Linked DNA regions of Homo sapiens: region 1 is linked to region 2. A link means that fine-mapping ties the variant in region 2 to the expression of a gene that starts in the linked region. Tissue or cell type: prefrontal cortex. Region 2 holds a variant in brackets; the other region holds the start of a gene. All regions are shown on one strand. Distances are from middle to middle.

Evidence for each region. PIP is the estimated chance that this variant, and not a neighbour inherited with it, causes the effect. A credible set is the group of variants that fine-mapping cannot tell apart.
Region 1: ASB18 starts here. The variant in region 2 is the best candidate, but not a certain one, in a credible set for the expression of ASB18 in prefrontal cortex (BrainSeq, PIP 0.63).

The regions. Positions count from the first base shown.
Region 1 is chr2:236,263,347-236,266,031 of GRCh38, forward strand. ASB18 (ankyrin repeat and SOCS box containing 18) reads right to left here and starts at 1,060. Exons shown (of 6, transcript NM_212556.4): 1 at 795-1,060. The coding sequence starts at 999.
Region 2 is chr2:236,193,308-236,195,992 of GRCh38, forward strand. It overlaps ASB18 (ankyrin repeat and SOCS box containing 18), which reads right to left. Exons shown (of 6, transcript NM_212556.4): 6 at 152-1,750. The coding sequence ends at 1,565. All of the region lies in intron 1 of GBX2-AS1 (GBX2 and ASB18 antisense RNA 1), which reads left to right. Among named protein-coding and RNA genes, the nearest start is that of GBX2, 26 kb to the left of the region's middle. The variant C/T (reference allele first, on the strand shown) is at 1,580.

The DNA of each region.
Region 1 (2,685 bases), 70 kb after region 2:
GACTTTGTCCAGACCTGCAAAGAAAGGATGGGCGACAGGCAGTGAAGAATTACCAGTGTGTGCTTATCAAATGGCAATTTAATACAAACATTCATTACCAGTGATGCTCCTTGGTGAGGTTGTGGTGAAACACATCACCTCACTGTCAGAGGGAACAGAAACCCTTGCGGAAAACAATTTGGAACCAATTTAGAAACAATACAATTTGAAAAAATGTTATGTTCTTGTTCCAGTTATATGGCTCCTAGGAATTTATGGTAAGGATATAATCCCAAAAAAGAAAAAAGCCGTATGAATCCTAATAAAGATGTTCGTTACAGCATTATTTATAGAAGCAAAAAGGTAACCAAATACTATCTTTTTGTAGGCATTTGGTTTAAGTATTTCAGTAGGGGATTGAAATTGGGAAGACTATGTAGCAACATGGAAAATGCTTTAGATTTAGATTTTGTAGATCTCAAGGGAGCAGAACACACAATTATGTGTATGATATGGTTATCAGTGGGTGAAATTTACACACGCAAATGGACAGGCTTGGAAAACAATGGAGCCACAGAGCAGCCACTGTGGTAGGATTAGTTTTTTTGTGTTGTGTTGCACTTGTTGCTTATGTCGCACACGCATGTACATGGTCTATGCAGTACACATATATGCATGTATGTATGAGAGTCAGATATCCGAGTACATATCATTTACTTTTTCCAAACATTTGCCCCTCTACCTCCAGGATCTGCCCACCCCATCAGTGTAACTTAGTAATTAAATCCCAGATGCAGCAGGCTCGTTCTGGTTACCTAGCAGCATGCCGGTGGGCAGCTGAGCCGAGGGGTCTTTCATCCAGTCGTCATTGGCCAGTTCTATCACAGCGTCCACAGGCGTGATTTCAGTGCAGATTAAATCCCTCACTCTCTCCTCATCTTTGGCATCCAGGGCAGACTTTAATCTCTTCACTAAATCTGAGTTGAGTGGGTAGTCGGGAAGGTAATCCGAGTTGGACATTGTTACGTCGTTTCTGCAGTGACCAGCCCTTCTTTTCTTCCTCTAAAGCGACTCCAAAGTCAGCAGCTGTCCGTGAGAGTGGCGTGGGGGCTGCTATAAATAGCAGCACCCTGGCTCCTCTTACAGTCCCTGCGGAGGGCCACCTGCCAGCAGGGAGGTGTGAAGTAATCTTTCCAGAGGCCTCAGCAAAGGATTATTCTAGAGATGGGGGCAGCAGACATGTTTGTGAGTGGTGCAAGAAGGAGAGACAATATTTTCAAAGACAGCTTTCATGGGTATTGTTGAATAATATCTTCTTTTATCAAAAGTGAGGCTCTCTCCTGAAACTTTGAAAACCTCTTCCTGGCACTGGGCTTGGACCTCTATTCTGTGGAAAGGAACATTTTCTAATATTCTACCCCTTGTGTTCCTTCACTTCCTCTAAAAGGAGCGTCTGGTCACCTGCAAATTGGACATGCCTCAAACGCATAGAATGGAATGGAATCTTTGGTTTCCAAATGCAGAGAAGGACTGGCTGATCTCAGGAAGACGGAAGCATCACAGAAAAACAAAAAAAAGTAACCTAAATATTACCTGTGACCTCCCTATGCCTCAAGGCTGGTAAACTTTGCTCAAAGCCTATAATTCCATGACTTGTGGAAGTGTGGAGCCCTCAGGGGGATTTCTGTGCACTCCTAGGGGCAAAGGTGGGGCTTTCTCTCCTTGACCTGTGTCTTCAGTGTGCTTGGGTCTCTGTGTGCCAACCTGTGCATAAGCACAGCTGTGCCTGAAGCTTCTCTGCTGATGCCAAGTGTGCTGTGGTCTCTGAGGGCCCAGGGCGGGCCGTGGAGCTTACAGGGCCTCCTTCGCCTTGCCTTCTATCTCGCCATCTTTTCCATTCCTTACTTTCTTTCTTCTCCCCTGTGCTTAATTTTATGTCTCAATTTGGCTAGGACCCCAGTGCCCAGAGACTTGGCCCAACACTAGTCTAGATGTTTCTATGAAGGTGTTTTTGGGATCAGATTAGAATTTCTTGAACCGGCAGACTTGGAGTGAAGCCGATGGCTCTCCCTAATGTGTGTGGGCCTCCATCAATCAGTTGAACGTCTGAATAGAACAAAAGACTGACTTTCCCTGAGCAAGAAGGAATTCTGGCGGCAGACAGCCTTTGGTCTCAACCTCAGGTCTTCCCTGGGTCTCCAGCCTATCAGCCCACCCTGCTGATGATGGATTTACCAAGTCTGCACAATAGTATGAGCCAATTCTTGAAGAGAAATTCTCTCTCTCTCCCTACATAACTGTTGGTTCTGTTCCTCTGGAGAACACTGACTAATACACCCTCTTCCTCCTTTCAGCTCATTTGTGTGATTTTCCAGCTTCTGTTCCATCTGCACTTGAGGTGCCAGGCACTGTAGTTCCTGCCCAACATCCATTCTCCTTCCACCTGCCCAACACAGCCTGGCTTTCTTGGTGGGGGCACTGTGCCCAGCCCCTGGGGATGAGTCATGTTGATTTAGGTCAGTAGTGTCAGTCCCAGTCTCCTTTGCCTGCACTCAATGTCCAGTCTCCCTTGCAACCCAGTTCTGGCTGCTGGGGTGAGTCTGGGAAGTTATGTGCTTTCCTGATCAAGAGGGACAGAAGTGACTGGCAACACCCTTTCCTGTTCTTGTTTCCTTGAACATGGACATGATATCTGGAGGTGCAGCA
Region 2 (2,685 bases):
GGTCCGTTGTGATCTAGGGTACAGAGTTTCCCCGGGTGGTCGGGCCCCAGCGGGGTGAGAGGCCTCTCTGTGAGGGGACGGTCCCAAGGCTCAGGGGCAGCATGAGGGCTGCTAACACACTGGAAAAATACATATACAGTAGGTCCTTAAATAATGTTTTGTTTAATGTCATTTTATTATAACACCGATAAGAAACAAAACTGATTCGGCAGGGCATGGTGACTCATGCCTGTAATCCCAGCACTTTGGGAGGCCGAGGCGGGCAGATCACCTGAGATCGGGAGTTTGAGACCAGCCTGACGAACATGGAGAAACCCCGTCTCTACTAAAAATAAAAAATTAGCCGGGCGTGCTGGCACATGCCTGTTATCCCAGCTACCAGGAAGGCTGAAGCAGGAGAATTGCTTGAACCTGGGAGGCGGAGGTTGCGGTGAGCCAAGATTGCGCCAGTCTCAAAACAAACAAACAAACAAACAAAAAAACAAAAAAGAAACAAGACTGATTCCTGGGCAAGGCCACTGTCTGTATGGGTTTTCTCTGGGTGCTCCAGTTCCCACCCACATCCCAAAGCTGAGCAAGTGAGGTGAGCTGTCGTGTCTGAATTGTCCCAGTGTTGTGTGTGGGTGGGTGGGTGTGGGGGTGTGTGAGCACCCTGCGATGGAATAGCACCCCGTCCAGGCCTGGTTCCTGCCCTGCACACTGAGTTGCTGGGGTGGACTCTGGCCACGCACGACCCTGAACTAGAATAAGCACATTAGAATATGAATGAATGAATGAATGAATGAATACAAATTATTGTAAAGTAAAAATTCATAAGGCATACAATAATCATCCAAATGCATGACAATAAATGATGCGGTATGAGAGGGCCTAGCAAGCCTGCCACATTGGTGACTGTTCTGAACTTCGTGGTGGTAGGAGGTGCTCCTGACAAGGTTCGTTTTGCAAACATTTATTCCTTGATCTAACCCACCAGCAGGACAACCACCATCACATACTGATTCACCAAAAATTGGGTAAATAATTATCTTACTTGTTATTAATCTCTTTTAAAGGTATGTGTAGCTTGCCTTTATTTCAATCTTTACTATTAGAATTGTATTGGTCTTTATTTAGAAGTGTGGTGATCTTTTTGTGACCAGAAATATGCTGTAGGAACATCATTCTTGTTTATATCAATTAACCTTGGGAAAACTGGCATTGTTATACCTCATTTAGCTTAAAGCTGGTTCCCTAGAACCTATCGAAGACCTTAAGTGAGGACTCACTGTACCTTTTGGCTTAACTGTTGTTGAAAGGTACTTTCCCAGACCAAGTGCTGTGATAGTCACGATTTCACTGGATTTTCACAAGCGACCCTGAGAGGCAGAAAGGGCTTTTGTTGCCAATTCCATTTCGAGGTGAACCTGAAGCTTGGCAAGGTCTGTGCTTCACCCGGTCCCACGGAGAGCAAGTGGGAAGGGAACTCCCATCACCTCCATCTGCATCAGGGCACTCTCCAACACACGGCCTCCATGGAAGGTCAGCGAGGAGAACAACAGTATTGGTTGCAGCGTTCTGCGTTTCAGTGCAAAACACC[C/T]TGTGGCTCCAAAAGTAGGTAATTCTGCAGGGGCTTTGGCAAGGGTAACAGGGGGATGAGGTCAAAGCACCTTTTGCCAAACAGTCTGCGAAGAGCACAGCGGCAAAGATGCTGCAGGCAGCGTGGGGTGAGGGCCAAGGCAAAGAGGGACTGGTAGAACGGCTTGTGCATCTGGAAGGGAAGGCAGGTGGATTAGAAATCTGGGCACGTGGAACCAACATACGTTTTCTTCTTAGCCAGACCACTGATGGTACAAGCGGGCTTTTCTATGGCTAACTGATCCCAGATAAGCGCACTGGAGGGAGACGCACCATCTTGTGGGAACCACCCTCTACCCCAGGGGCTTGTGTGCTCTCCCAAAGCACAGTTCCTGCCGAGTGAGAGGGGATTCTGACTGGGGTGACTTCAGATGCTCCAGGTGGTCTCCCCGAATTCCGTTTTGCTCCATCCTCTTTGCACAGCAGCCCTACAGCTCCGGGGTGGCCCTGTTCATCTCCCCAAGTCATGACCAGCTCTTCCCTTCTGCCAGGGAGGGGCTCAGGAGCGAGTGCATGGCATTGGTCTGGTGGTCAGTCATGCACACATGACTCAAGTCAGTGAAACAGAAAAAACACACACAACTCTTCTCACTCTCTTTTTTTTTTTTTGAGATGGAGTCTAGCTCTGTCACCCAGGCTGGAGTGCAGTGGCGTGATCCCAGCTTATTGCACTCTCTGCCTCCTGGGCTCAAGCGATTCTCCTGCCTTAGCCTCCTGAGTAACTGGCATTACAGGCGCTTGCCACCATGCTTGGGTAATTTCTGTATTTTCAGTAAAGACAAGCTTTCACCATGTTGGCCAGTCTGGTCTTGAACTCCTGACCTCAAGCGATCTGCCTGCCTTGGCCTCTCAAAGTGCTAGGATTACAGGCATGAGCCACCGCACCTGGCCTGTTCTCACTCTCTTTTAATGGACAGTCACCTGTGGACTTTGTCGTGGATAGATGTAATCCCCATAGCTTCCTTGGTCGTATCTTGAGCTGCTGGAGCATGAAGCTGACTCACAGGGCCGGATTAGTATGTCCTGACGTGGAGCTAGGCCCGTGGATTCAGGCGGCTCTGGCCTTTC